Homo sapiens: one gene and its partners. The gene in region 1 interacts genetically with each later gene. Each region holds a gene or a part of one and is shown on either strand. Other genes may lie near its edges.

Region 1 (3,654 bases):
GTTTGTAGCTTGCTTCTGACTCTTATTCTAAATATATATTTTTTTCTCTTGAGTTTGTGTCTGCTGGCCTGTTGGCCACAGTAATATTTGATTCCCCTGCAGTGTCTAGCATATTGCCTTATCTGTATTTGTTAAATGGGGAAGAGTGAGGGAACATTATGAGAGCAGAGAAAAGACAAAAAACTTGTCTTCCAGGTGTCATGATACAGCTAATACTTACTGAGTAAAGGGTCCTGAAGCTGATACAGTTTGTTCAGTCTCTTATAAGAACTAATATTAAGTTATGGATACATAATTGCTGGGGCTTCTCCTCTAACATTGAAAGAGTTCTATTCTAGTGAGAAATGCTGAAGGTTAAGCTTCATTAGCTATGTATAACTCTTCCTCAGATTCAGAAAATACTATGTCCAGGCACTGTTCTAAGTCTATTCTTGTTTAAACTTAACTCTAAGAGAATTTGACAAAGAAAAAAAGAACACAAAGAGAATAAGTAACTTGACCACTGTCACAAAGTTTAGCCTTATGAAGTGTGGTAATTGTAAATGAGGTAGGATTAATCCATGAAGGGTCTTGAATGCCCTAAACAATTTGTATGACAGTCAGTGGGAAGTTGTCCATGTAAGTTTTGGAGCTAGAGACTCAATACGATCAATGTAAGAAAAGTAGGCAAATATGCTTAGTAAGTAAATAAGCTTGTGTAAATTATGAAAAAAACAGAAGATACTAGAGAAAAAATTATTAAGTCTCCTAAGGAATACAGGAACTGGATAATTTGATTGGAATAGTTGAAAATGAGAAGAGGAGGCAAATTTAAGGGTTTACTATGAAGGAAAGATGAGCAGCTTTTGGTAATGGGCTATAAATATTGAGAAGGAACACTTAGGTATTGAGTATCTTCTGTGACTATGCTAGGCATTTTCATTATTTTATTCGGCCGTCAGTCAACAGGCAAAGAAACTGAAGTTTACAAAAGTAACTTGTCAAAACTCTCTTCACATGAGTTATAAAATAGTTGAGCCTATTTTATCCTATATCCACTAATCTGTTTGTATATCTAATACACTAACTCTGAGCAGAAGTAGCAGTCTCCCCAAGGAAGTAGGAAAATAGGAAGGAAGTATACTTTATAGGAAGGTGAATTCAGTTTTATTGGTAACTATCATTTATTTCAAGCCCGTGTCTAAGTGGTGGTACATCTCAAGCAGTTAGAAATAAGGAAATGGTGATTGGGAGCCACTAGAATGAGTTAAATGTTGGCTTGGGTGAGTTCTCAGAGAGTGGTTGTAATGATGGGGCTTAGAAAAATTAAGAACTGGCTAGGGATGGTGGCTCACCTGTAGTCCCAGCACTTTGGGAGACCAAGGAAGACAGATCGCTTGAGCCCAGGAGTTTGAGACGAGCCTTGGCACCATAGCGAAACCTCATTTCTACAAAAAATTAGCCAGATGTGGGGGTGCACACCTGTAGTCTCAATCACTTGGGAGGCTGAGGTGGGAGGATTGAGCCCAGGAGATTGCGGTAAACTGAGATGGTGCCACTGCACTCCATCCTGGGTGACAGAGCGAGACCCTGTCTCAAGAAAATACTAAATAAAAGAAAATTTAAGAAGTGAATCAATCTCAAAAATGCTTAATTAGAGAACAGAAAAATAAAAGATTTCTCAGTGGATATAGAGCCTGAGCCAATGCAGTATATTTTGGCAATCCATTTTTAATTAGTTTTTGGAATTGGCAGATAGTTTTTGAGATTTTTCTATACTTAACACCCCAGAGCATAGATAAAAACATGCAAAAATAAGTATTCCTGTAAAGGTTACATTTCTGCCTTTTCCAGTTTATTGTGATCTTCACTTTGCAGCAAGACTTTAGCAACACAGAAACTCTTAAGGTATTGAAGACAATCCAATATGTTTTTGAAAAGCAATTTTATTTTTGTTTTATTACTCTTGAGTTTGAAAAATGCATGTTCAGAGGAACTTGGAAAATGTATTGGCCATTTTTAATATTATTCAGTTCTGTAGAGGAAAAGTTAAAGTTGATGCCAGCTTACTAAAGATTATTATTTTTATTTTGATATAGTTACAGCTGTTATAAATTTTCATATAGGAATAACAACAAAAGTAGAGTTTAGCAATAATTGACTTTATACTTCCGTTGATTTAGAAGGCTTCATGCAGTCTTTGGTGTCAGAATGAGAGACTACATACATAACTGAACATACTTCTCTGTTGAATATGTTAATTATGACAAGGACCAAAACAAATATCATGAAGGTACTTAGGAGAGGATGAAAGCATACGAAGAATAAACAATAATTTTAACCAAAATCTGGCTTTCGTTTTATTCTTCAAATGTTAGAAGAAAATGTTATATTTTATTTCTTACAGATTTATTTATAATATTGTAAAAATTACTGAAAATCATTATGCAATCTAGAAAATCTCAACTTTTCACTTTTTGTAATCATTTTACTGTTTATGCTTAGAATTAAGTTGGACTTTTCACGTTTTGGTTTTAAAATTAGATTGCTGTTTCACAAAGTTTGGATTTCTAAAATACTTCTATTTTTTGTTTTCTTCTCTCTTCCCTTCCCCTTCCCACTCCCAGTGGACAAACTACATTCATGGGTGGCAGGATCGTTGGGTAGTTTTGAAAAATAATGCTCTGAGTTACTACAAATCTGAAGATGAAACAGAGTATGGCTGCAGAGGATCCATCTGTCTTAGCAAGGCTGTCATCACAGTAAGTTCCTTTTCTTCTTCATTCAACAAATATTTATTGAGTGTCAGCTACATACCAGGAACTGTTCTACGTGTTCAGGATACATCCGTGGATAAGATAAAGATCCTTGTCCTTGTAGAATATACATTCTAATACTTTTTTCCATAAAGTGATTTTACTGTGGTTTTTACTACATATTGTTATTTTGCATAGACATGTAGTTTTTATCTGGTGGGTATATCAAACCAGTTTAAGGGCTTCAGGAAAAAAAAATGTTTGAAGCCTTTTTATTTGTTGAGGCTGGGACAGTTACTTTGTAGGTTACTGAATATTTAAAAATAATACATCTTGTAAGTAACATTCTAAAATTTTAACTTAAAAATATAAATGTAAATTCATTTTTAAACTTTTTAACATTGAGCTAATGCCATCTCTTTGTGGAGTTGGGAGAAGCTGTTCTCATGTTCCTCACACATGATTTGCTATTTACAGTTTTGATTTCTCTAATGTGGAATAAAAGCCTGAAGATAACTTTTGAAAAACTCTAAGTATAGGCTCCTTCTAACTTTTTATGATTTCCCCTTATATTTTGCAGTTACATCACTTTTCTCCAATTCAACACCCTTTAAAAGAATAACTCACCTTCGTTGAGTCATTCTACTTAGTTTACATTTTGTTGTTCTTTTTTTGTTTTTTTGTTTTGTTTTGTTTTGTTTTTGAGACAGTCTTGCTCTGTCACCCAGGCTGGAGTGCAGTTCTGTGGTCTCAGCTCACTGCAACCTCGACCTCCCAGGTTCAAGCAATTCTTCTGCTTCAGCCTCCCAAGTAGCTGGGACTATAGCCACGTGCCATCACGCCCGGCTAATTTTTGTATTTTTAGTAGAAATGGGGTTTCACTGTGTTGGCCAGGCTGGTCTCAAACTCCTGACCTCAA
Region 2 (3,654 bases), on another chromosome or scaffold:
AATTTATTGAAGGTAAAGATCATTTTCTTCCTAGACAAAGCCTTATATTTAAGTTTTAAAGCCTCACAACTTAAACATGTGAAAATTATAAACAGTCCCTTCAACTGTATCATTGCTTAAAACTCCCAAAGTTCAGGAAAACAATAAATCACAGGTGGAACAGATTCAATATGAGAAAATGTAGTGGGAGTTGGAGAATACAGTTTTTCGAGGGCAGAGGGGGCTGGCTTGCCCTTTTTACTATTATGTACACTACTACTACGTTAAGATAACAAGCATGGTTTTTATGTTTCTTAAAACTATCTTCTAAAATATAACAGTAAAACAGAGTAAAAAGATACCTTAAGAGAAGCATGGAATGACCCACAACCCTCTTAATAAAGGAAGAAAATCACAATACTTAAGGAGAGACAACTGCATCAAATATTACCATGCGCTAAAATTAATCTAACAAACTATGTACACCTCTAGTTAATTGTTTTCCCAAACTTTAGGGGGAAAGATGTGAAACTCTCTAATTCAGCATAAACAGATCAATCCCATTTTTGCCTGAGCTTCCAAAGTTCTGACAGCCTAACTATTCCACTGTGTCAGGAACAGTGTGCAGTCTTAAAGTACTGCATCCACACAACCTGAACTTTCCTGCAATTCATGTTTTTGTTTTTAATTGTCCTAAACACTATCAAGGGAAAAAACAACATTGGGGTTTCAGGAAAGAACTACGGTTTGCCAGAGAGAACAAGATCTCTACAGGTATTATAAAGTCTCAATGATTCAACGTCTATAAAGTTTCTTTATATGCCACTATTTCTTAGTACCTTACCAGGTTACTTTGTTTTAGATGACCTGTACTATGGCCCAAAAATGTTAACTTTCAACAAGACTCATGGCCAGGCGCAGTGGCTCACACCTGTAATCCCAACACTTTGGGAGGCCAAGGTGGGCGGATCACCTGAGGTTGGGAGTTCGAGACCAGCCTGACCAACACGGTGAAACCCTGTCTCTAAAAAATTAGCCGGCGTGGTGGCACATGCCTGTAATCCCAGCTACTCGGGAGGCTGAGGCAGGAGAATCGCTTGAACCCAGAGGTAGAGGTCGCGGTGAGCCAATATCGCGCCAATGCACTCCAGCCTGGGCCACAAGAGCGAAACTCCGTCTCCAAAAAAAAAAAAAAAAGAAAAAAAGGATTCATGACCTAATTACTTCTACCTGCTTAGCCATCTGCGTGATCCATCTTTCCATCATGGTTTCAAGCAAGTCTTATTATTCTGTTGCTTTTTTTCCTACAGCAGTATTCAATGCTGTCACACAGGTTAACTCTCCCAGCTCTATTTGGAAGTCTGTATTAGACAGCAACAAGCAACAACAGACTTATCACTGACTACATTTCCCGGGTTTCTCCAGCAATACTAAAATCCCTTAGCCAAGAGTGCCTTCTTATGACAGGTCTGGCCTGGGGAGATAGAGATCCACCTGCCCACTGGCTGCACTCTGCTGGTCCTGCCTCTTAAAGTGCAAGGGACCTGAGGGACGACAGGCAGAAGGTCAAGTCTTACATCCATCCTCTCCCACCATCTACAGCAAACCAAGTAAGAAAGGTGTCAAGGGAGGTCCCAGGTCCCATGAGAACTAACCCAACAATTTCCCACCTTACTTGCCTGTCATGGACCATTAGAAATATAACAGAATTCTTAAGACACAAGAACTTCCTCTTTGACTTCAGAAGAGGAAAAAAACACGTACAACACATAAGTGTAAAGCGATAAATTCTAATCAACACTGCAGAAAGATATGTCATTTTAACACCAATAAGCTCAAACTAACTTTCTAAAAACATTTTCTAGGATAGGTTAGCTGACAGAAATCGCCCATATTAAGTTCTTAGCTTACATTCTATTAAACATTTCTAGAGCAAGCTGTTTACTGTAAGACAAAAAACAGTATATCTGGACCTAAACCTAACCGTGAAAAATGGGTCCACAGGCACCCTCTTAACCATTTTTCCAAAGAAATATGTTTAAACGGCTTTACCATGCAGAGCTATGGCTTCCCGGAAGGGTTGCAAATCAGTCTCTACAGATGAGCTAGTTTCCGTTGAAGTAGCTCGGTTAGGGGACACTACAGTCAGTCTTGGGGGAGCTCTAGAGTTTCGTGGTGGAGGAACTTTTCCACACAGGAAGCTGATCAAATCTTCTCGACGAATAGTTCTTCTGCGTTTTTTAACCCAAGCCAACACATCCTTATTGCGTCGCTGATAGCCAATCTGAATTCCAATATCAAAACTTCGTTGATGGGTATCCACGCTTTCTGTTAGAAAAAAAGAAAAAGAAAACATGTATCATGACCATTAGAGCCCGTATTCCCTTCTAAAGAAAACCATTTTACAATTTAACCAAAGTGAATACCATGATGTGGCCTCTGAGCCCATCAGTAATATAAACTGAAATGATTTCAGTCATAATGAAAATGTTATATGTAACATTTAATCTTAATGGTCTAAATTCAGTGTTTACTTATCACAGTCCTGGAGCTTGGCTTGTTAAAAAAAAAAATTTAACAGAAACAGAGAGATTAGGTATCTTTAATGAAATTACCTAAAATAACTTGCATCACATCATTCAACAGATGTCTAAATATTGCACATGCCTCAGGCCACGCTCATCTGCATTTACCACGTCATTGTGGAGATACATTCCTACTGACAGATTCAGCACCAAGAATGAGGAACAAGCTGAAGGCAGCAGCAAATGTTTTAGAAGGAAAAATTAATTCTGACTGATGGCTCAACACTAAAACCAAATAGCATGGTGGAAAACAAAAAGCTTTATTCATTTCCCTGGGTATACTCATTTTGCTTCCAGTTCTCAACAGCTTCCTGTAACTCAACCATTCCCAACAGATCTCCTAGACTAAATTCTCTGCATATACTCCACCTGGGTTTTGGTAAAATGATCTCTACCTTTTAGTGGTTTCATTTAGTTGAAAAAAAATTTGAAAATTTAAGTGACTATTATTTAGTTTTAATTGAGCTGCTGTGCCAGCAGAACATCACCAGTATGTCTTTAATGGCATTAACCAACATCGTTACTTTATCCTTGAACTTTCCGTAAAAGCAACAATACTGTGTACATTTCTCTATTACTTTTCCCGGCTTTGATTATTTCGTTTTATTTTATTTTTTGAGACGGAGTCTCTCTGTTGCCCAGGCTGTAGTGCGATGGCTCGATCTCAGCTCACTGCAACCTCCGCCTCCAGGGTTCTCCTGCTTCAGCCTCCTGAGTAGCTGGGATTACAGGCGCACGCCACCATGCCTGGCTAATTTTTCTATTTTTAGTAGAGACCGGGTTTCACCATATTGGTCAGGCTGGTCTTCAACTCCTGACCTTGTGATCCGCCTGCCTCAGCCTCCCAAAGTGCTGGGGATTACAGGCGTGAGCCACTGCAACCGGCGGCTTTAATTTCTTGTCTGCTACATCTACAGCAGACTCTCAAAGGATGGGCAATAGTCAAACAATGTAAAGCTATGTTCCAGAAAAAAAAAAAAAAAATCATCCAGACATCACAGAGGATGCCAAGCTGAATTTGCACTATTAAAGAAAATGGCAAGAGGGAAGCACAACAACCAGAACTTTATAATAAGGCCTACTCTTAAGC
Region 3 (3,654 bases), on another chromosome or scaffold:
TTCAATGCTAATAAATACATTAAAAATTATATTAGGCTGCTGGGTGTGGTGGCTCATGCCTGTAATCCCAGCACTTTGGGAGGCAGAGGCAGGTGGATTGCTTGAGGTCAGGAGTTCAAGACCAGCCTGACCAACATGGCGAAACCCCGTCTCTACTAAAAATATAAAAATTAGCTGGGCGTGGTAGTGGGTGCCTGTAATCCCAGCTACTTGGGAGGCTGAGGCAGGAGAATCGCTTGAACCTGGGAAGCGGAGGTTGCAGTGAGCTGAGATTGTGCCACTGCACTCCAGCCTGGGCGACAGAGCAAAACCCTGTCTCAAAAATAAATAAATAAATAATAATATTAGGCCTACCCTAATATAACCTATTGTGAATATTTTCCTTTAAATCATCTTCCAAAATATACATTTTAGTCATAACAAAATATTCCAATGTGATGGATTGTAATCTAACAATTCCCTCATTATTGAAGGGCTACAGCTTTTCTAGTTTTTCACTACTATAAATGCTACTTTTATATATCAAACTTCTATATTTAATAGCCAGTGTTTATTGAGCACTTAATTAAGGCACTTTGATAGCCACTTTATATGAATCCTCCCTTTCAATTTGCATCACTCAGTGAGATGGGAATTATTGTCACCCTCCTTTTCCGGATGAGAAAACTGAAGGTTGAAGAGGCTAAGCAACTTCCTCAAGGCTACACAGCAAATTGGTGGTAAAGCCAGAATGCAAAGCAGGTCTGCATGACCACTGAGTGAAGCTTCTAATCATTCTACCATACTTCATCTTCCATTATTTCTTTATGATGAATTCCTGGAAGCAGAACTCTTAAAAATAACACCCTATTTTTAAAAGTGTGATAAGTGCTGCCATGTTGCCCTTCAGTAAGCTTATAACAATTTGAATAATGCTCATTTTCATACTCTTACTAATACTCGATGCCAGCACTTTAAAAAGTCATTTTCAATTTCCTAAGTTAAAAAATGCTGGCTCATTTCATATATATTTTTAAGCTGATTTAGACTACTGGTATTTTTGTGATTACCTCCTGTAACAGACAAAGCATAGTAGTAAATGTTCTAGGTGGGCCCAATGGCTTATAACAACAGAAAGGGGATTTTGCAAATTTAGGACTCCTCACTGACAACAAGAGCAAGAGATGTTGCAGTGGCAAGTGGTGAATGGAAGAATGGTAAGTCTTCCTCCAAGGGCGGGTCAAGGAAGGATGATGACATCTGAACCCAGGAGTGGACCCTGGCAGCTGAGCTCACCATTAATGAGTTATAACTCACCATTAATGAGTTATCTTTACCACCAGATGGTCTCAAGTAACCAAAAATTTCACTTTGGCCCCTTGTTCCTGATTTTATGGAAATGCCACTTGTAAAGGTCCACATCATGGCAGAAAAATTTCCAAAGATCTCTCAGTCAACCTGGACTCCGCCTTCCTTTTTATCCCCAATCCTCCCCATATCTCTTTCCTCTTCCCACACACTATCAAGTCATGGATCTGAGATGACCACCAAGCACTCCATATCCCTGACAACCCACCAAACAACTTGTAATCATGCCTCCCAACTCAATGTATCTTCCTTCCCCCGGCAGCTATTTCCAACGAGCGCATCCTAGATGAAGAACGATTTTTCTGTGCTCCCATTGTATTCTGATGCTTTGTAATTGTTGGTCTACTTTCTCAACTAGATTTTCAATTTGTTGAGAGCAAACACTTTGTTTTACTGCGTATACAGGACAGTCGGTGGGTATGATAGGGTTTTATACTTTTTCATCAATAAATTGCACGGAGTTGATCAAGCAAACTGGTAGCCAATTTTCTATCTCTGGAGAACAGAGAAAGGAACTAAAATCGAGTGAATCTCTCTCTATTAGATGCCCAGTAATTTACATCCATTAACTCAATTAACTCTCACAATAATCCACTGAGGCAGACAGTAGAGTCCCTATTTTATAAATGAAAACAATAAAACCTTGCTTTCCACATATAGGTAGTGGGGCCAAAATCTGAACCTAGGTTGATGTGATTCTGAGCCTTGGTTCTTTCTATTCCATTAGGCGGCCACCCCTCCTGAAACTCAAAGCCATGTAAACTGAATGGGGAAGGCTTCTCTTCCAGAATTATTGGCTTAAAATCCTCTGGAAGTAAAAAGTCTCCCATTTGCCCTGGCCAGGAAACAAAGAGAGAAATGGGAGCATGGGAAGAGGGATGTAGGAAGAAGAGGGTGGTAAGTTAAAATTACATAACACTTCCCCACTTATCTGAAAGCATCACCTGGGGCACTTCAATCTTCAACTTGACCTCTTTTAACTGTCTCAAGCCTGAGAAGCTTTTTAGATGAGCACCCTAGATTCTTATGGCACTGTGACGCCATCAGAAAAGAAAAAACTGAGACACCGTAGTATATAAGGAGCAAAAGGGACATGTGGCTCTCATTCTGATGAATAATAAGTGGTACAACTGTAGCTAAGTCTAAGCCATTAAAATTCTCTGGAAATCTCCATCTCCTCATTTCTAAACTGAAAGGATTAGGCTGTGAGAGTTTCCAAACTGGCTCTGCATTCAAATAACCCTGAGTCAGTGGAAAATACTGATCTCTAGATCCACCCTCATTCTGCTTTAGTAGGCTTGGAGTGGAACTTAGGAATCCCCAGGTAATTTATAGGCTCAGCCAATTTTAAAAACACCTGGGTGAGATTGTCTATCCCTGCCCTCCTCTCCCCCTTTTCAGAGGACGAGAGTGTGAAAAGACAGCCAGCTGACTTAGTATATTGTCACATAACCAAACACTACCAAGAAATAGCAATTCCAGTTCTATAAGGCTTAATAATCCCTTCCTGTTTCAGGATAAAGTGAGTTATGCTCAATCTTCCTCAGTTGGTTAAACCTGCCTTGCTTTACCAATGCACTAGCCTTAAGACTGCCAAAAACAGCACTAGTGGGGAATGCAAGCTTTTTATTTAATTACAGGGTTCCTCCAGAGGTAGCAGCTGTTGCGATTCTCTCAAGTTGCCAGACCATCAGTTTCTCTACTCCTTCAAAGCTCTTCTGAGAATGAACTACTACCAGAAGATTTTAAGGGCAGACAGGCAGTCTGCCCAGGAGACAGTAATATTCCTACCTTGACATCTAGCTTGGCCAAGTGCTGTAAAACCCAGATGCGATGGGACCAAGCATTATAGTTGCTTGGGTATCTCCCTGCTGCTTCACCACAGACCTCCATCTCTTCTTGTATGAGTCGCTGTGCCCTTTCTGTGGGAATTGTTCCCAAGTTTCCTTTGGTCACAAAGGAAGGCAAGGAGGTTTCCTGAATTAGCTGTTGTAGCACCCATCGCCTGTTAAGGCAGCATGTGGGAAAGAGAACACAGAAAGAACATAAACCAGAGAGAAAAATAACCAGTTTTCATTGTTCCTAATTTAATTTCCATTCAGAGACAATGCAAAATAATACCTGTTTATAAGTCTAGTATTTTGGAGATGGGGAGGGGTTGTTTTGTTGTTTATGATGATACTAATTTAGCAGTATGGATGAAGGGTGGAAAATGGATAAACAGGAAAAAAAAAAAACTTTAAAATCTGTAATACAGAGAATGTCATTACTTCTAAAATGACAATCCCAAAACTCCACTTGGCCAGG

Evidence for each region.
Region 2: changes in CERT1 (region 1) and HAPSTR1 together harm fitness less than expected from each alone (positive genetic interaction), as found in Homo sapiens cells (one large-scale study listed by BioGRID).
Region 3: changes in CERT1 (region 1) and PTAR1 are lethal when combined (synthetic lethality), as found in Homo sapiens cells (one study listed by BioGRID).

The regions. Positions count from the first base shown.
Region 1 is NC_000005.10:75,505,069-75,508,722, reverse strand, and holds part of CERT1 (ceramide transfer protein), read left to right. Parts: intron 1-2,606; coding exon 2,607-2,741; intron 2,742-3,654. UniProt on the Homo sapiens protein: Shelters ceramides and diacylglycerol lipids inside its START domain and mediates the intracellular trafficking of ceramides and diacylglycerol lipids in a non-vesicular manner.
Region 2 is NC_000016.10:9,101,637-9,105,290, reverse strand, and holds part of HAPSTR1 (HUWE1-associated protein modifying stress responses 1), read right to left. Parts: intron 2,308-3,654; coding exon 2,032-2,307; exon of another isoform or gene 1-2,031. UniProt on the Homo sapiens protein: Acts as a central player within a network of stress response pathways promoting cellular adaptability. The E3 ligase HUWE1 assists HAPSTR1 in controlling stress signaling and in turn, HUWE1 feeds back to promote the degradation of HAPSTR1.
Region 3 is NC_000009.12:69,729,001-69,732,654, forward strand, and holds part of PTAR1 (protein prenyltransferase alpha subunit repeat-containing protein 1), read right to left. Parts: intron 3,353-3,654; coding exon 3,139-3,352; intron 1-3,138.